Linked DNA regions of Homo sapiens: all the other regions are linked to region 1. Evidence: fine-mapped expression QTL. A gene starts in region 1. Each other region holds a variant in brackets. All regions are shown on one strand. Distances are between the middles of the regions. Region 1 holds the start of TBC1D5 (TBC1 domain family member 5). Region 2 overlaps TBC1D5 (TBC1 domain family member 5). Region 3 overlaps TBC1D5 (TBC1 domain family member 5). Region 4 overlaps TBC1D5 (TBC1 domain family member 5).

Evidence for each region. PIP is the estimated chance that this variant, and not a neighbour inherited with it, causes the effect. A credible set is the group of variants that fine-mapping cannot tell apart.
Region 2: its variant is the best candidate, but not a certain one, in a credible set for the expression of TBC1D5 in whole blood (INTERVAL, PIP 0.84).
Region 3: its variant is the best candidate, but not a certain one, in a credible set for the expression of TBC1D5 in testis (GTEx, PIP 0.52).
Region 4: its variant is the best candidate, but not a certain one, in a credible set for the expression of TBC1D5 in whole blood (TOPMed, PIP 0.66).

Annotation. Positions count from the first base shown.
Region 1 is chr3:17,739,672-17,744,876 of GRCh38, reverse strand. TBC1D5 (TBC1 domain family member 5) reads left to right here and starts at 2,246. Exons shown (of 23, transcript NM_001349074.2): 1 at 2,246-2,396. LOC105376975 (a long non-coding RNA gene) reads right to left here and starts at 1,933. Exons shown (of 2, transcript NR_135536.1): 1 at 1,759-1,933. RefSeq lists enhancers at 1,830-1,899, 1,857-2,560 and silencers at 2,020-2,329, 2,560-2,759.
Region 2 is chr3:17,696,422-17,701,626 of GRCh38, reverse strand. The region is part of intron 1 of TBC1D5 (TBC1 domain family member 5); the gene reads left to right. It also overlaps the pseudogene TRC-GCA25-1. Among named protein-coding and RNA genes, the nearest start is that of TBC1D5, 44 kb to the left of the region's middle. The variant A/C (reference allele first, on the strand shown) is at 2,678.
Region 3 is chr3:17,474,279-17,479,278 of GRCh38, reverse strand. All of the region lies in intron 3 of TBC1D5 (TBC1 domain family member 5), which reads left to right. Among named protein-coding and RNA genes, the nearest start is that of TBC1D5, 270 kb to the left of the region's middle. The variant C/T (reference allele first, on the strand shown) is at 2,488.
Region 4 is chr3:17,684,959-17,690,163 of GRCh38, reverse strand. The region is part of intron 1 of TBC1D5 (TBC1 domain family member 5); the gene reads left to right. Among named protein-coding and RNA genes, the nearest start is that of TBC1D5, 55 kb to the left of the region's middle. The variant G/T (reference allele first, on the strand shown) is at 2,206.

The DNA.
Region 1 (5,205 bases):
GGTATGTGTTTGGTCTTGTCACAGGTCATCTACTAGTTTTATCAGAGAAACTGGACAATGAGTCTCATTTAAGTAATATGGAGAAGGATTGGTCTTTGTGGTAAACTGTTTCGCAGAACACAAAAAGGTGGTGGGATTTCTTAACTATTTCTGTTTCCCATGAGTCTCTGGTAAAGTTCAAAGTTGTCACTGCAAAGCCTTTTTTTTTTTTTTTTTTTTTTTTTTTTTGAGACGGAGTCTCACTCTGTCGCCCAGGCTGGAGTGCAGTGGCGCGATCTCGGCTCACTGCAACCTCCACCTCCTGGGTTCACACCATTCTCCTGCCTCAGCCTCCCGAGTAGCTGGGACTACAGGCGTGTGCCACCATGCCTGGCTAATTTTTTGTATTTTTAGTAGAGACGGGGTTTCACTGTGTTAGCCAGGATGGTCTCAATCTCCTGACCTCGTGATCCACCCGCCTTGGCCTCCCAAAGTGCTGGGATTACAGGCGTGAGCCACCGCGCCTGGCCCTGCAAAGTCTTTAAAGGCCTAGGCCTAGAAGTGACAGAGAGTAATTTTTGCCATATTTGATTGTTTAAGGCAGGTGACAGGTCCGGCCCAGACTCAAGGGCAGAGGACTATACATGGGCATGAATACTGGGAGGCACAGTTAATTGTGTGCCATAAGAAAATAGTCTACCACAAGGTCTGAATCTTGGGCTGAATATTTAGAATGGGATGCCATTAGCATAACCTGTGTGGTAGCTGAAACTATGAGGTGGGATCAGTCTGTGGGTGTATACAGTGGTAAATGCAGAAAAGAGTCCAACAGCTTTGTAAACATTTGAGAATGGAATCTTGAGGGTTGTCATTTTCCTAGTTTCTCAGAAGCCTCTGTTAATCCTATTTCTTCATATACATTCATCCCAGGATTTTCTGTCATTTTGTTGCTAGCCCCATTTCTTGACTATCATCTCAGTATTCACCAGTCTAACAGTGATGATGACTGGTCTAGCCAGAACTCCCAATTAGGGAGTTTTTACATTTTATTTATTTGATAAATAAATAAATCTGGCCGGATTAAATCTGGCCACAGGCACTAACTTAACCTGTTCAGTTTCTGCAACAGAAAGAGGGGCAACAGAAAAAGAGGGATCTCTGTGTGAAGTGGGGTGTTTGTCCACAAAGGTCTCCCACACAGGCATCTTCCTCTGAAGCTAGATAACCTTCAGAAATCTGACCTTTCTCTGACTTGGTTTCCTTTTCTGGACTAAACAGTATCAATTTTCGTTGGAGCTCTTTGTGAAGATAAGCTAATAAAATACCATAAATCTCTTTTACTAAGTGAAGCATTTACCACTCTAATTAACATTATGATTTAAAGGCTTTCATACTGGGGAAACAAACACCACCTTCCCACGTGCTTGGGTTAAAGGGGATCTTAAATCATGATTATGCAGAGACCAAGGGCAACGATAAAAGTTTTAGACATTCCCTGTGTTCTGATAGTCATCAGACGTTTAGGGAGATACTACAACACTGAAGACCCTGTCCAAGTTTATGAGATAAAGATAGAAACCACAGTCTAGTATTGTGGGCTTGTGAAAAAATAACTCCTAACCTTTATCTTTCTATGGGTTGTACTACAAGGTAGGTCTGCACAAAGTGCTAGTGACTCCTCTAAAGTAGGCAGGGGTAAGTTTCACGGAGAAAGTGACAGATGAGCTGAGTTAGAAGCCTACTCAGCCACAGAAAAATGTGGCATGGAAGGCCATTTACCTGTGACAAGGAAATGTAAATTCCTTGGCAGGAGAGCCAGGATCTCAGGAGAGTCCCTGGGACCCTCTGCTCCCCTTCTCAGTCCAACCCTGGGAAGATAGTTGGTGGATGTGAACCTCTGACTAAGACCCAGGAGCTGGTTCCCAGCCTCCAGCCGCGCGCCGGTTGGAAGCAGGGAGAGAAGGGAGGGGTAAAAGCCCTCAGGCGCATGCGCTCAGCAGCCTGCCGGCTCAGCCAAGGAGAGCTCTGCCCGCGGCTCACTCCCCACCTACTCGCTTCTCGCGCCTCGCGGGCCCCAGAAACCCGGACCCGAGAGCGAGCGCGTTGCGCTCGCGCGCAGACTTCAGGTCCCGTGCGGGCGCCTGCGCACGAGCTTCCCAGGCGCGCGGGCCGCGAGGTTATTAGAGGTGGAGCGCGGGGAGGGCGCGCGGCGGGAGGCGGCCGCCGTTACGGCGCGAGCGTGGTCACGTGGCCGCTGGTCACCGCCGCCACCCCCTCCCGCCCTGTTCTCTTTCAGGTCGGGCCGGGCCCGGCCGCTTCCGCGAGCGCCCTGCAGACTGAGGGAGAGAGAGAGAAAGAGGAGGGGAGGAGGAGGAGGATTCAGGGAATAGGAGCTGGGGAGCCCTTCTGCGCCACAGGTAAAATAAAATAATGATGATGATCGTAAAAAAGCCCAAGCCCTCTGAACGCCTCCGCCTTCCTCCAGTGCAGCCCCACATGCAGTCGTTCCCGCCCCGGCCTCCCACTCAGCCTCAGGACAGGTTTCGCCCCCCTTCGCGCCGCTGCTGCAGCCGCAGCCGCCGCCGCCTTCTCACGGGAGGGCCTGAGGGTGCCGCCGCCACGGCGGACGGGTTGCCGCACCGCCCCCCGTTTGTGCGCCTCGGAGTCGGCGTCGGGGGTGGATGGCGGGAGGGGTGGACCCTTCAGCTCCCTGGCGGGCAGGGCGGGCAGGGCGAGCTGGGCGGGGTGGCTGCTTGCAGTCTGCCTGCTTTCCCTGCCCCAGGAGGTCGGGGTCTAGACTGGAAGGCCAACTGCAGTAAAGGCAGGGCCTGGCGGCTGGACTAGTGCTCAACTTCCTACTTAGTAAATTTCCATGTTCATTTGGGCCCCGGGAAGCACGCTTCCTTCCCTAGCCGGAAGCGAAACGGGCCCTGAATCCTCAAACCTTAATAGTCTTTAGAAGAGAGAAGCCTTGACTTCACTTTTGAGGAAGGGAACCGTGACCTGGATTTAGTACGACTTAAGTTTATTCACACGTAAGAAACGGAGGTCTTTCAGGATAAGAGCAAAAAAAAAAAAAAAAAAAAAAAAAAAAAAATTCGCAGGGAGGGCAAATCCCGCTCCCCACCCCGACTTTTCCTGGAAAAACACACAGACCTTCACTACAAGATTCGATTCTACAAGTGACCTAGAATTTGTTCGATACCAGTTACTCGTTTTAGTTACAGGAATTATAATCTGTGTTTAAAGTTAACATCCTGTAGGTTTTTTTCGAATAATAACTTTCTGGAAAGAGTTCATTTGTCAACTCTGAATTGGACAAAATCCTAAGATTTTAACATGCAGGTTTCACACGTTTGGACCAGGTTGCCTGGAATTTCTAGACCCGGTAATTCTTTTGTAAACCTTTATAAGTGTTGTGCTCTTGCACAAAATACTTAAAGCAGGAAGCAATAAATAGGTATTGTTGAAAAATGAGCCTTTGCTATCGGTGGCAAAGAAATTCATTTATATATTGGTTTTTCTCTTTGGGCTTTTCTGATTCCGTGTCTTGGTACTTTTCATACCATATCTCTGAATTCATTTGTAAACTTGAGCATTTTTAATTTTTACAGCTATCTGCAGTATCACAGAACACTCAAACCTTAATGTGGGTGGGAATCACTTGGGGCTCTTATTAAAAATGCATTTTCTGGTTCAGTAGGCCTATGGTGCATTTTGATATTGTACATTTCTGATAACATGTGCAGCTGGACAAGGGACTATCTTTGAGTAGCAAGGAAGTGGATAACTTGTGTGCAAATAAATAAAGTGTTGTATTTATCAATAAACATGTTCTTTTTAATAACTCACCCCCGGGTGTAGAGGTGGCTTGGGAGAAGGGGCAAATGGCAGGATGAACTGAGAAAGCTTTCAGAGTGAGCAGGCTGAGTCTGGATTCCAGGGGAGGGGATAGGAAGAGTGCAAATATTGTGTCTGTATGCTGTATGGTGACTGCATCACCTGGTCTGTGAATTTTCCATTAGAAGCTTGGTGTGCTGTTAGGTGAAAGACTTGCTCAGCTATGCGTCATTGGGTTTTATCAACATATAGGCGAAAAAAATCCTGGTCTCTGAGTGTACAGCTGAGATGAAAATTTCTTTTATTGGAGGAAGTATTGAGTGTGTGCTCTCAAATGCGGCCTCAGTTGAGTAGTGCATTCCTGAGTTTTGGAAGCAAATTTGCAAACAATTGAGAGTCGTACAGTGGGTGTTCTAACTGGATTCAGGTTTTTTCTAATGTAATTTTTTCACACGTAAATTAAAAAGTTTAGAAATGTCACACATAACTTCATAACACTTTATGGAGAAATGGTTGTACTTTTAATTTTTTTCTTTTTATTTATACTCCAACTGACTGAGCAGAGGTTGTACTTCTAAATAACTTTGTGGAAGTTTTTAGTACCATAATTTTTATAATTTTCATTCCAGTCCTTTGATATTTATGACAGTACTTCTGAAGCGCTTACTGAGTGCCGGACACTGTTGTAAGTGCTTTACGGAACTTGACTTTTTTTTTTTTTTGAGACGGACTCTCGCTCTGTCGCCCAGGCTGGAGTGCAGTGGTGCAGTGGCTCGATCTCGGCTCACTGCCACCTCTCCCTCATGGTTTCAAACACTTCTCCTGCCTCAGCCTCCCAGGTAGCCAGGATTATAGCCGCCCGCCACCACTCCCGACTAATTTTATTTTGTATGTTCTTTTTTAGTAGAGACGGAGGAGTTTCACCATGTTGGCCAGGCTGGTATCGACCTCCTGACCTCAAGTGATGTGTCCATCTCGGCCTCCCAAGGTGCTGGAATTACAGGTGTGAGCCACTGTGCTCGGCCTACCTTTTTTTTTTTGTTTTTTGTTTTTTTGAAAAGGAGTTTCGCTCTTGTCCAGGCTGGAGTATAATGGTGCGATCTCAGCTCACCGCAATCTCCGCCTCCCAGATTCAAGCGATTCTCCTGCCTCAGCCTCCTCAGGAGCTGGGATTACAGGCGCCCACCGCCATGCCCGGCTAATTTTTGTATTTTTAGTAGAGACGGGGTTTCACTATATTGGCCAGGCTGGTCTCGAACTGCTGACCTCAAGTAATCCGCCTGCCTCAGCCTCCCAAAGTGCTGGGATTACAGACGTGATCCACCAGGATCACACCAGGCCGCGCCTGGCCTGCTTTCATTTTAAAAGTCAAATTTGTCATCCGCC
Region 2 (5,205 bases), 43 kb after region 1:
AGTCTTTTTTGTTGCCCAGATTGGAGTGCAGTGGCGCTATCTTGGCTCACTGCAACCTCTGCTTCCTGGGCTCAAGCGATCTTCCCAACTCCGCCTCTGTAGTAGCTGGAACTACAGTTGTGCGCCACCCAGGAGACTTTTTTTTATTATTATTATACTTTAAGTTCTAGGGTACATGTGCAGAATGTGCAGGTTTGATACATAGGTAAACATGTGCTATTTTGGTTTGCTGCACCCATCAGCTCGTCATTTACATTAGGTATTTCTCCTAATGCTATCTCTCCTCCAGCCCCCTACCCCCTAACAGGCCCCAGTGTGTGATGTTCCCCGCCTTATGTCCAAGTGATCTCGTTCAGGTCCCACCTATGAGTGAGAACATGTGGTATTTGGTTTTCTGTCCTTGTGATAGTTTGCTGAGAATGATGGTTTCCAGCTTCATCCATGTCCCTGCAAAGGACATGAACTCATCCTTTTTATGGCTGCATAGTATTCCATGGTGTATATGTGCCACATTTTCTTAATCCAGTCCATCATTGATGGACATTTGGGTTGGTTCCAAGTCTTTGCTATTGTGAATAGTGCTACAATAAACATACGTATGCATGTGTCTTTATAGTAGCATGATTTATAATCCTTTGGGTATATACCTAGTAATGGGATGGCTGGGTCAAATGGTATTTCGAGTTCTAGATCTTTGAGGGATTACCACACTGTCTTCCACAATGGTTGAACTGGTTTACAGTCCCACCAACAGTGTAAAAGTGTTCCTATTTCTCCACATCCTCTCCAGCACCTGTTGTTTCCTGACTTTTTAATGATCGCCATTCTCACTGGTGTGAGGTGGTATCTCATTGTGGTTTTGCTTTGCATTTCTCTGATGGCCAGTGATGATGAGCATTTTTTCACGTGTCTGTTGGCCGCGTAGATGTCTTCTTTTGAGAAGTGTCTTTTCATATCCTTCGCCCACTTTTTGATGGGGTTGTTTGTTTTTTTCTTGTAAATTTGTTTGAGTTCTTTGTAGATTCTGGATATTAGCTCTTTGTCAGATGAGTAGATTGCAAAAATTTTCTCCTATTCTGTAGGTTGCCTGTTCACTCTGATGGTAGTTTCTTTTGCTGTGCAGAAACTCTTTAGTTTAATTAGATCCCATTTGTCAATTTTGGCTTTTGTTGTCATTGCTTTTGGTGTTTTGGACATGAAGTCCTTGCCCATGCCTATGTCCTGAATGGTATTGCCTAGGTTTTCTTCTAGGGTTTTTATGGTTTTAGGTCTAACATTTAAGTCTTTAATCCATCTTGAATTAATTTTTGTATAAGGTGTAAGGAAGGGATCCAGTTTCAGCTTTCTCCATATGGCTAGCCAGTTTTCCCAGCACCATTTATTAAATAGGGAATTGTTTCCCCATTTCTTGTTTTTGTCAGGTTTGTCAAAGATCAGATGGTTGTAGTTGTGTGGTATTTTTTTTTTTTTGTCTGTCATTTTTCAAGTGTTCCCTTTCAGTTTATTAGTGGCCAAGGGACAAGCCAAAGCAGATGATGGATAATTAAGAAGGTGGGGCTTTAGAACACATAGCTTGCCAGAACTCTAGTGTGGGTGGAACTTGATTGTATTGAGTCACCATAAGTGGACAAGGAAGGAGCTTCTAACAGGTGAAGGGGGTATATCTCAGGGGGCAGAGCATTTGACTGCAGATCAAGAGGTCCCCGGTTGAAATCCGGGTGCTGGATTTTCTCACTTCCATTTTAAAGTAGATACTGTCAGCCACAGTGTCACCAGAATAGATGAGAAAACTTTCTTTCTTTTTTTTTTTTTTCCCTTGACACAGTACTCCTTTAATCCCACAATACTCTGTGGTAATTTTAAATCAGATACATTGAAAGGATATTAACTTTTACAATATTATTGGACAATTAAAACTATATATGTAAATCCAAGAGACTGGAGGATCTACATATACTGAGTTTCTTATTTAACAATAACTGATGATTTTTATATAATTGAGAATAAATCTGTATCAGATGATGAGACTCATAGAGGATAATAGGTCAATTATTATGGTAATTTTAAAAATCTATTTATTATTATTATACTTTAAGTTTTAGGGTACATGTGCACAATGTGCAGGTTAGTTACATATGTATACATGTGCCATGCTGGTGCGCTGCACCCACTAACTCGTCATCTAGCATTAGGTATATCTCCCAATGCTATCCCTCCCCCCTCCCCCCACCCCACAACAGTCCCCAGAGTGTGATGTTCCCCTTCCTGTGTCCATGTGTTCTCATTGTTCAATTCCCACCTATGAGTGAGAATATGTGGTGTTTGGTTTTTTGTTCTTGCGATAGTTTACTGAGAATGATGATTTCCAATTTCATCCATGTCCCTACAAAGGACATGAACTCATCATTTTTTATGGCTGCATAGTATTCCATGGTGTATATGTGCCACATTTTCTTAATCCAGTCTATCATTGTTGGACATTTGGGTTGGTTCCAAGTCTTTGCTATTGTGAATAATGCCGCAATAAACATACGTGGGCATGTGTCTTTATAGCAGCATGATTTATAGTCCTTTGGGCATATACCCAGTAATGGGATGGCTGGGTCAAATGGTATTTCGAGTTCTAGATCCCTGAGGAATCGCCACACTGACTTCCACAATGGTTGAACTAGTTTAC[A/C]GTCCCACCAACAGTGTAAAAGTGTTCCTATTTCTCCACATCCTCTCCAGCACCTGTTGTTTCCTGACTTTTTAATGATTGCCATTCTAACTGGTGTGAGATGATATCTCATGTGGTTTTGATTTGCATTTCTCTGATGGCCAGTGATGATGAGCATTTTTTCATGTGTCTTTTGGCTGCATAAATGTCTTCTTTTGAGAAGTGTCGGTTCATATCCTTTGCCCACTTTTTGATGGGGTTGTTTGTTTTTTTCTTGTAAATTTGTTTGAGTTCATTGTAGATTCTGGATATTAGCCCTTTGTCAGATGAGTAGGTTGCGAAAATTTTCTCCCATTTTGTAGGTTGCCTGTTCACTCTGATGGTAGTTTCTTTTGCTGTGCAGAAGCTCTTTAGTTTAATTAGATCCCATTTGTCAATTTTGGCTTTTGTTGCCATTGCTTTTGGTGTTTTAGACATGAAGTCCTTGCCCATGCCTATATCCTGAATGGCAATGCCTAGGTTTTCTTCTAGGGTTTTTATGGTTTTAGGTCTAACGTTTAAGTCTTTAATCCATCTTGAATTGATTTTTGTATAAGGTGTAAGGAAGGGTTCCAGTTTCAGCTTTCTCCATATGGCTAGCCAGTTTTCCCAGCACCATTGATTAAATAGGGAATCCTTTCCCCAATGCTTGTTTTTGTCAGGTTTGTCAAAGATCAGATAGTTGTAGATATGCGGCGTTATTTCTGAGGGCTCTGTTCTGTTCCATTGATCTATATCTCTGTTTTGGGACCAGTACCATGCTTCTTTGGTTACTGTAGCCTTGTAGTATAGTTTGAAGTCAGGTAGCATGATGCCTCCAGCTTTGTTCTTTTGGCTTAGGATTGACTTGGCAATGTGGGCTCTTTTTTGGTTCCATATGAACTTGAAAGTAGTTTTTTCCAATTCTGTGAAGAAAGTCATTGGTAGCTTGATGGGGATGGCATTGAATCTGTAAATTACCTTGGGCAGTATGGCCATTGTGGTATTCTTTCTGAGGCCTCTGTTCTTTTCCATTGGTTTATATCTCTGTTTTGGAACCAGTACCATGCTGTTTTGGTTACTGTAGCCTTGTAGTGTATTTTGAAGTCAGGTAGTGTGATGCCTACAGCTTTGTTCTTTTTGCTTAGGATTGTCTTGGCAACGCGGGTTCTGTTTTGGTTCCACATGAACTTTAAAGTAGTTTTTTCCAATTCTGTGAAGCAAGTCATTGGTAGCTTGATGGGGATGGCATTGAATCTATAAATTACCTTGGGCAGTATGGCCATTTTCACAATATTGATTCTTCCTATCCGTGAGCGTGGGATGTTCTTCCATTTGTTTGTATCCTCTTTTATTTCATTGAGCAGTGGTTTGTAGTTCTCCTTGAAGAAGTCCTTCACATCCCTTGTAAGTTGGATTCTTAGGCATTTTATTCTCTTGGTAGCAATTGTGAATGGGAATTCACTTGTGATTTGGCTCTCTGTTTGTCTGTTATTTGTATATAGGAATGCTTGTGATTTTTTCACATTGATTTTGTATCCTGAGACTTTGCTGAAGTTGCTTATCAGCTTAAGGAGATTTTGGGCTGAGACGATGGGGTTTTCTAAATATACAATCATGTCATCTGCAAACAGGGACAATTTGACTTCCTCTTTTCCTAATTAAATACCTTTTATTTCTTTGTCTTGCCTGATTGCCCTGGCCAGAACTTCCAACCCTATGTTGAATACGAGTGGTGAGAGAGGGCATCCTTGTCTTGTGCCGATTTTCCAAGGAAATGCTTCCGGTTGTTGCCCATTCGGTATGATATTGGCTGTGGGTTTGTCATAAATAGCTCTTAGTATTTTGTGATATGTTCCATCAATACCTAGTTTATTGAGAGTTTTTAGCATGAAATACTGTTGAATTTTGTCGAAGGCCTTTTCTGCATCTATTAAGATAATCATGTGGTTTTTATCATTGGTTCTGTTTATGTGATGGATTATGTTTATTGATTTGCGTATGTTGAATCAGCCTTGCATCCCAGGGGTGAAGCTGACTTGATCATGGTGGGTAAGCTTTTTGATGTGATGCTGGATTCGGTTTGCCAGTATTTTATTGAGAATTTTCACATCAATGTTCTTCAGAGATATTGGTCTAAAATTCTTTTTTTCTGTTGTGTCTCTGCCAGGCTTTGGTATCGGGAAGATGTTGGCCTCATAAAATGAGTTAGGGAGGATTTCCTCTTTGTCTATTGATTGGAATACTTTCAGAAGGAATGGTACCAGCTCCTCTTTGTACCTCTGGTAGAATTTAGCTGTGAATCCGTCTGGTCCTGGACTTTTTTTTGGTTGGTAGGCTGTTAATTATTGCCTCAATTTCAGAGCCTGTGATTGTTCTATTCAGAGATTCAACTTCTTGCTGGTTTAGTCTTGGTTTAGTCTTGTATGTATCCAGGAATTCATCTATTTCTTCTAGATTTTCTAGTTTATTTGCCTAGAGGTGTTTATAGTATCCTCTGATGGTAGTTTGTATTTCTGTGTAATAGGTGG
Region 3 (5,000 bases), 270 kb after region 1:
GGTATGTGCTACCATGCCTGGCTAATTTTTAAATTTATTTTTGTAGAGACAGGGTCTCAGTACTTTGCCCAGTCTGGTCTTGAATTCCTGGGCTCAACAATCCTCTTGCCTCTGCCACCCCAAAAGCTAGGATTATGGATGTGAGCCGCCACGTCCAGCCTTTGCATGTTTTCAGATGACATATATCTAGCTCAGTGATTAAAATGAGCTGTGTAGCCATTTATTTACCAAGCATTAATATTTCATGTTATTCATAGATAGTGTATCAGTTAACTTGGTTTGTATGACGTACTGTTTCTAAACTTGTTACACAATATAGTAAGCATTTATTATGGGTAATGGTAAAGTGAGCAAGTTGAGTAATTCTCTTACTCTGAGCTGAGCTTGCTTACGTGTCTAAGCAATGGATGATCTAAGATTGTGTCACTTGTGTCTGGAGATTCAGTAAGCTACATGTCTCATCCTCCAGCAGGGTAGCCATCACTTGTTTACATGGTGATGTCAGCTTTCCAAGTAAACAAACTGCCAGGTTTCAGGATTTCATGAGATCTAGACTTGGTACTGTGACCTTGTCAGATCTGCCACATTTTCTTGGCCAAGACAAGTAACAAAGCCAGCTAGAGGTAGCAAAATTGTTAGAGGTAGCAAAAATTGTATTTTTGTATACTAGCAGTGAACAATCCTATAATAATTTTAAGCAAAAATTCTATTCATGATAGCATTAAAAGAACTAAATATTTAGGAATACATTTAACACCAAAAGTAGAGGAAGTACACTGACAACTATAAAACAATACTGGAAGAAATTAAGGAAAGTTATAAATAAGTAGACATTTCATGTTCATGGATTAGAAGACTCAGTATTACTATGTTGCCACTACCTTTTGATGGAAGAAGCTGGAAAGTCACACCCTGAATGTCATATGTTTAGGAAGGGAGTAATTGGGCCATTAATACCATCAATTTTTCACAGATACTAATTCAAAAATAAATGAACATTTATGATATGTAAATATTTTATGTTAATCAGCCAAAAAAAGATGGCATTACCGAAAGACACAAAATAATTAACTGAAAACCTAAGACAATTGACTGAAAAATAATGGAAGCAATGAGAGCTCAACAGTAAAGCAGCTAATGGGAAACAAGCAAAAAAACAAACGTTTTCCTAAATTTCTGGATTTTCCAGATTAAAAATGTATTGCATATGAAAAGGTATAGTGAGGTCTTTAAAATAAATTCTTTAATCAAGTTTAATTTCAATCACATTTCTAGAGAGAGTCTTTTAACCTCTAAAATATCTTTCTAAAATCCATTCAGAATTATGAACTGGTTAAAAAGACAATACAAGTATTCTCTTATGTGAACATTTTTATGACTATGAATTGGAAAACTAAGGTGTAGTGGATACATTTCTATAAAGACAAGAATTATTGAAATAGAGTTCAGTTCAGTAAAATATAACCTAGAAAGCAATGTGTATACATACTTCTAAACTTGTTAAACAATATAGTAAACATTTATTATGGGTAATGTGTATACACATTGCTTTCTAGGTTATATTTTACACATCAAAAACTATGGTTACATAAATGGATATGTAGCCATTAAGTATGTATGAAAATTTTAAAAATGAGAAAAGTTGGTTATTTGATTAAGTGATTTTTATAACGGACATACAATGACTTATACAGTTGTATCACAAGTTTTAAAATATAAAAGAAGAGATAAGTTTCTGCGTGATACTATAACCATTGATGTAATGGAATAAATAATTATAATCCCAGACAGAAAACACCAATCCCAATTTGGGGACAGATGATTTCTAGAAAACATAAAGAGAAAATTCTTTCAGAGAATTGAAAAATAGGGAATGTTTTCAAATTTATATTACGTGACTGGTATAACCTTTGTAACAATATCAGTCAAGAGCATTATGAAAAAGTACAGTCCATTCTTGCTCATGAATATGGATAAAAATAAAATATTAGTAAACAGAATCCAGCATGGGTAAAAAGATAAACATATTTTACCAAATTTTGTTTATCCTGGGAATGCAAGGTTAGTACTTAGGGAAAATCTATTTTTGTAATTTAGCTTATTAGCAAAGTGGAAAAGTCATTTCAGTAGTTGTAGGGGAAACATTAAAAAAATTCACATAAGTTTGTGATAAAATAACTGTTAACAAACTGTGGATTGAGGAGACCTTCTTTAATATGAAGAAGGACATTTATAAAAGAATTACACTAAAATCCTTCTCAATGTAAAATGTTAAAAGTTTTCTCTTTAAAATTAGAAATAAAAATCTACACATAAATTATTAGAATTTAATAATTTAGTTTACCTATATTCCTTGTTATATAACGTGTGCAAAATCAGTCGCACTTACAAATATACCAGCAATAAAGATACAGCATTTATAACAGTACAAAAATATGAGTAAACCTTCAATAAATCAGTAAACTATGTGGTAGTTTTTGTGGAGAA[C/T]GTTATGAAACTTCATTGGAAGACATTTAAGAAGACCTGAATAAATATAGAGGACACACCATGATCATGGATGAGAAGACTTATTGTCACAGAGTTATTAGGTTTTCCCCAAATTGATCTATAGATTCAGTGTATTTTTCAGTCAAAATTTTTACATTGATTTGTTATTTTTAGTAACTTGGCAGGTCATTCAAGTATTTAATAGAAAAAAGGTACAATAGTCAAGACATTTCTGAAAAAAAACATGCACATTTTATATAACTAGGTAATATGATAATGGCTCATGACTTGATAAATAGACTAGTGGGAAGAACAGATAGACAGATAGACTCAAACTTACATGAAAACCAAATACATGACAGAGCTGAAATTATAGATCAGTGGTGAAAGAATGGCATCTTCATTAAGTGGTGCAGAGGACAACTGATTTTTCATTTGGGTGGAAAACAAAAATGAATTATTTTCTCACATCTTACTAACAATACCAAATTCTCCTAAATTAAAAACTTAAATGTGTAAAGCAAAACTATAAAACTTTTAGAAGAAAATATAATTTCAAATATCAAAAAGGAAAAAATATATATATAGAATTAAATTATTGCAAAATCAAAAACTATTATGAGAAGATACTGTAAACAGAGTGAAAATACAAACCACAGTCTAAGAAAAGATGATAATATACAAAACTAAAAAAAGTTTAGCATCCAAGAGGTATGAAGAATTCTTATGAATCAATATGAAAATGGCATGAAAAAGGCCTATATTTTGTAGTAAAGGAACCATGCAATAGCCATATATGTATGAAGAATTTAAATAAAATCCCTGTCAGATAACATATGATAACCTCTAGATTGGCAAAAATCAATTAATGTGAGTTTGCCACCGTGTGAAGAAACGTGAGCTCTGTTACGTTGCTGATAGGAGTTAAAGTTGGTTCAAACATTTTGGAAATAACTTGGCATTACAAGAAAATTGAATATGACCATACCCTAGGAACACAGGGAAACTATTGCATATCTGCATCAAGAATTGTGTGTAAGAACATTGTTTATGATAACAAAACTGGAAACAGTCCAAATGTGTATCAGCAGTGCAAATAATTTCTTCAGCTTCTGACTGGGAATGCCATCCTCAGGAGAGAGTTGATAGTGGGGTTAGACTGGGAAGAGGAGTAGTGGAAATGAAGATAATTAAACAGATACCGGATATATTTTTGATTTAGGGTAGAGAAAACTACTTGTTGATGATTGCAGGGCAGTGAGGTAAAAGATTTATCTAGAAAGATTCCTAGATTTTTGGCATTGGGCAACTGACTAGAGAGGTGATAACATTTACTAAAGTGTTGGAAATTGATGGAAAATTAGATGATATCATTTACTAAAGTGTTGGTAGTTGATAGAAAATTAAATTTGGAGGGGGTGAGTGGGGAGGAGAAATAAAGAGTTTTGTTTGCCTTGTATGGTGACGTCTGAGATGTCTGTTAGACTTTTTGTCTTGTGGAGATGGATATATGAGTCTGAGATTCTGGGAAGATGTAAAGTCTTAAGATATAGGTTGGGGAGAAGTTACCATGCAGATGGTGTTAGATTTGGGAATATATAAACGGGTGGGGCGGGGCAAGGTAGAACCACCGGATACTCTTAACATGTAGAGATTAGTAAATGAGAGTTTGATATCTTTAATATCCAAAAATTCAGACAAGTTAGGAATATGAACACAATTGAAAAATGACCAAAGGACATAAACTAGCAATTCTTAGGCAATATTTTGGATGCTTAATAATTAAATGCAGAGTGACCTCATTTGCCATATAAGGAATGACATTAAAGCAAGTTTGTTTCTTGTTTTTCTTTTTTTTCTTCCACATTGTTACGTTAAAAAAAGTAATGCAACTGGGCTTTGCTTGAGGTCTAGGGAATTGGAGATTTTCACATAGGTTTTGTGGCAATATAGATTGGTATTATCCTTCCGGCATTCCATTTGGCAATGTATATCATAAGTCTTAACGTGTCCTTGCCCATTGACATTCAGTTTAATTTTTCTCTTTCTGAAAGCCTGTGCTTCTCCTGTCCTTGCCTGTTTTTTACTTTCGATGTCAATGATGCATTAAAATAGATTTAAGTGTGAATTGTTGGTTGGTTGAACATAAAGTTTTTATTTATGTGAAACTGTCTAAATATATCTTCTGAAGATTGGAGTCGTTCTTTATTATTTTCATGTTTTCTCTATGTTGCTGTTCATTTCTTTTACTTTTGAATATCAGCTTTATTTTTTTCCTTTTGGATAGAGAATTGATTCCTTCTTTCAAATATTGCTAATGTTCATACCTAGTACAGAAAACTTATAATAAATCACATAATGTTCAATTTTTAATGAATTAAATAGAAAACAGGGTATGATTTTCCCATTTTGCCCAAAGGAAAACAAAGATATGATGGACATTTTAGGACAAACATAAACTCAGCTTATGATGAAGCTCGTTTATCTCAGTTAAGTTTATAACTCAGAAATCT
Region 4 (5,205 bases), 55 kb after region 1:
TAATGGTTATTTTTCCATATTTCTTTGGTTTGTCATTCTTGTATAGGCCATCACAATCTACTCCTTGTTATGTTTTCTAGTCTTGTTTCCCACTGTTTTTTTGTTGGCCATGTTATGACTTATTAAAGCATCATGTATTATAGCAACAATTCTTTTATTCATATCCTTTTATACTGATTAAATGCTATCTCTTCTTTTTCGCTCATACTGGTCCTTCTAGCACTGTTGACGTTTTGGGCTGAATAACTGATTTTTTGGGGGGGAGGGGTCCTATCCTGTTTGTTGTATGTTTAGGTATGTTTAGGGATGATAGGTTTAGGTATGTTCAGCTGCATCCCTGGCCACTACTCACCAGATGCAAGTTATATTTCTCATTTGGAACAACCTAAAGTTTTTCTAGACATTGCCAAATGTCCCCTGGGGGCAGTGTCTTCCATAGTTGACAACTACTATTGTATTCCTGTATGATTTTGATCTGAGACACAGAGGCATTTCTGATTATCCCTGCCTGATGTGACTTTTTACCTGCTGGATTTTCTGTAGTATACATTGTCTGAATTATACATTTATCTTTTATTACATTTTGTTATGAATTCCCCTCCCTCCCTTTTTTCTCTTTTTCTTTTCTTTTTTTTTTTTTTTTTTGAGACAGGGTCTCACTCTGTCGCCCAGGCAGGGCCCACTGCAGCCTTGACCTTCCCAACTCAAGCGATCCTCCAGCTTCAGCCTCCTGGCTAGCTGGGGCCATAGGCACACAGCACCATGCCTAGCTAATTTTTTGTATTTTTAGAATAGACGGGGTTTCGCCATGTTGTCCACTGATCTCAAATTCCTGGACTGAAGCAATCTGCCCACTTTGGCCTCCCAAAGTGCTGGGATTACAGTCGTGAGCCATTGTGCCCGGACTTTGTTGTGAGTGTCTAACGCATTTTCTAGAGGACTGGGTCCATCTATTTCACTTTTTTGTTTGTTTGCTATTTTGGCCAACTCCATGCACTTGTTAGTAGCTTTGAATGTCTTTTCCTTTGTTTTTCCATTTCTTTTATGGTGATAATGGGGATTTTGGAAAGTAAATCACTCTAGAAAATATGGAAAATTTTGAAGCATTCTAAATTATGAGACTCTATTAATGGTAATTATGGAGTTTCAGCCAATGGAATTAATGCCAATATAACAATTCTCTGTGTACCCAGTAGTAACTCTGGAAAATTCGGGACAATTCAAGATAGTTTTAAAAATATAAGAAAGATATAATTTATGTTAGATGTGTTCATTATACAAGTAACCAGAAAAATGTACAGTAGGGTAGAAATTTTAAAAATAGGCTGAGAAATATAGAAAGTGGAAGGATTTGTAGAAGCATGAAGGACAAATGATTAGTTCCACAGAATGAGATGAGCAAAGTAATCAATATGTCGGGGTACATTGTTAGGAATGATGGATGTAGCATCTGGTTAGGAGTGACTTGTGCAAAGCTGACAAACGTGATATGTGAATGCTAGTAAGTTGAATACAAGTTGGGCACAGAGAAGTTGGCTTCTTAGTACTGCCTAAAGAGAAACATCTATGTTTTGCCCCGGTTGGTAAAGATACAGCTCAGATGTAGATGCTCCATGCCATTGTTTAAATCAGTGAATTCTAGGTAATAAAATAAATTGAAGCCTGAACCTAACCACTTTTCTAAGGTGGCTGATTGCTTCTTCATCTGTGCCAACATTTTTATGAAAAATAATCAATACACATAGTATGTATTCATTGTAGAAAAACTAGAAATTAATGAAATGTATGGATAAAGTAAAATTTAGTTACAATTCCTCAAAGGAGAGCTAAACCACTAGTATCAGTTTAGTTTTTATTTTCTTAAGTTTTATATGGTCTCAGTCTCTCTAGATATAGCTATATGATGGGCCTATATGTATGTGTATATATATACTAGTATATGTATTTGTATATATGTATATTGATATGAAATGGGTTATTGTATATGAAATAGTTTATATTTTTTTATTTAATACTGTGAACAGTTCTCCATATCAGTAAAATTCTTCAAAGTGATATTTAGTGAAATCATAGCATTCGATTCTAAGATTATCCCTAAATTTAACCATTCTTCTATTGTTAAATATCTTTTCCTTCATTTTCATTAATTTGCAGTGAACTTCTCTAATGAAAATCTTTCAGTACCTCTTTCATTTTCTTTGAAGA[G/T]TTGTAACTTTTACTGCAGTCTGCCTATTTTAATTCACCTCACAAAATTTATTCTGTCTTCCTTAGTTACAAAAGAATCCCAGTTTTATAGCTGAGTATATTGACAGTGTTACAGACTACATTGCCTGGCCTTCCAAGTGGTTAAGTGTGACCAAAGGGCTAAGTTTATGGTTTATAAGATATAAGGTGGAATATTGTGTGAGATAAGAGAATAGGGAGGGCTTTTCTTCTCCTTTCAGACTTCTTCCTGCTGCCTGCAATGTAGGTAGATTAGCTGCAATTCTCATAGCCTTCTTGGAATATGAGGTGACTTTGAATAGAAACTGTACGGTAGAGCAAAAAGGTGGAAGGAACTTGGGCCCCTTATAGTTGGAGCTGCCATATCAGCCTGTGATTTTCTTCTTCTGGACATTTACATGGGAGAAATAAATTTGTCTCCTCCCTCCTTTTTTCCCCCTCTCCTTGTTATTATTTGATTATTATTTTTATTGATTTGGGAGGGATGTGACCTAATCCTAGCTGACAAAGTATACTATTATTTAAAGCCTCTATATGATAATATAACAGGTCAAATATAAGGAAACATACATTTTTGTCATTCCTTGGTTTCTTAAAGTGTTGGGATTACAGGTGTGAGCCACCATGTCTGGCTAAATTTAGCTTTTAATGCTCTCATATTAACTTGTTGAAAACATTTTGATATATGAAATTTTTAGAAAACATTTTTTATGACTGTAGACTTACTGTTTAATATTGATTCTAAGAAAGGTAATCATAACTTTAGTCATATAAGTGAAGAATACATATTTGAAAAAATAAGATAGTTTTTGAGCAGTTTTAGCTTTAGAGAAAAATGGAGCAGAAAGTACAAAGGGTTCCCATATACCCGGTCTCCCAAGGATACACTTTTTTTATCCAGGATATTTCACTATACATATTATACATAGAAAAAAGACTCTACATCTATTAACCAAATATATATTATTTTGTAATAGGAAAACCATACATGTTACTTTAATTCAGGGTTTCCTACCCTCATCACTACTAACATTTTAGGCTAGATAATTCCTTGTTGTAGGAGCCATCCTGTGCATTGTAGGATGTTTAGCAGCATCCCTGACCTCTACCCACTAGATGTCAGTAATTCTCCCTAGTTGTGACACACAAAATGCCTCCACGCATTGCCAAATGTCCCTTAAGAAACAAAGTCACCCTTAGTTGAGAACCCATGCTTTAACAATATAGGTGTTTTAGAATTTTCTAAATTTTTCAGGTTTGGCCTAAATTTAAGGGCTCTATAGCTTAATGAATCTTCCCACTGAAGATTGTGTAGGCAAAATGTGGATCTTTCCTGCCACTTGGGCACTGTAGGCAGTATACATAATTTTACTGGGCCTCAGTTTCCTTCACTGAAAAATAGGTAAAATGTTACCTAACTTGAAAGATTGTTGTGAGAATTCACTAAGATAAATTATATAAAACACTTTAATTAATTAGTAAATTAGGTTAATTTCCTTCTCTTCAAGCGTACTATATTGTTTTAATGTAGTCCCTTCAGTGTGTCAAAAACCTATCACAAAGTTATTATTTCTATGGGAACAGCTATCATAACTTGGGATCTACTATTTAAGGATATAAAGAATGCTATACTATGGGTAGATAAAACCTTTGTTAAATGAAGGCTGATTTATGAGGTCAGTTGTGTTTTGACCCTTTATGGTACCCTAATTAGATTGTGACTACATTCAGATTGTAACAGTTAAGGGATCTCATCGTGTTCTTTCAAGGACTTTGAGCTTCCCAGATTGAAGATAGCATTAGATGTCAGCCAATCACTTTGTCCTTTGAAGTTTTTGTCTTTCACGTCTGAAATCCCGCCAATTGTAACAGCTTGTGTGTCAGCCCCAATAGAGAAAGTTGGATACTGTCAAGTTGAAGTTAGTCCACTGAAGACTTCTAAAAATCTTGACATAGTTTATGACTAATAATGTCGACTTCCCATTATTTTTAGAATTGTAAAACATTGTCCACTAGTGAATGAAATGCCATCTGTAATAATTAAGGCTCTTCTTATTATTCTCCTGCAGAAAATTTCTAAAGATTTGGTGAAGATAGGAAAACTGTCAGAAAGGCTGTAGCATTATTATATTGTAGGTATTTCTTTGAAAAAGAAGTGTAAGTTAAGAATGTCTTGAGTGTCCAGTTGTTTGAGGGAAAATATGTTAGAGAAAGATATATATAATATCAAGGCAGTTGTATTATAATTATATTAATGATGTATGAGAACTAATCCTATGCAGTCTTTTAAACATTGAAAATGTGTTCATATGTATTGAGATGAGGATTTTACCAATAGTATTGAAAAATATTTCTAATTCTAACAAGGATTGATCTAACTTATGTACATTTGCTTATTTAAATTATCAAAATCCGGAAAATCATTGTAGCTTTGTAGGTTGTGATATGTTTGGGTGACTTATTATTTAGGTTATTTTGCAGAATTATTTATTTGCTGTTTTATTTATGTATTTCATTATTTATTTATTTGATTATTTAGTAAATTATTTATCTGATGAATTATTAATACATCTTCACGACATCCTTTAAATTATTTATAAGTTAATTTTGAGTTTATTGCTTTTAGACGCTGCATTGTTACTGACTAGTTTTGATTTTTTTCTTTGTGGTTCTTGAAAATTAAAGTATCAGCTCTAAGGCAAAAGTATAGTCATTGCAATGCTCATGGATTTTTTTTAAATTTATGGCAGAGATAAAATTTCAGCTTTTTTTAGCTTTAAATTTACCTATTTAGAGTTACCAGTGGTAGAATGTTTGTGTATTATGTGCATACTCATTTTAGAGTCACTTACAAATTAATGATATAGCCTATCATTTATAAACAGTGATTGAACATGTAAACCTCAGTCTGCATTACCCTTTGTGTCTTTAAAGAACAGATCTGCATTTTTTACTTGTTTTAAAATGAATAAGTCTTGGTTA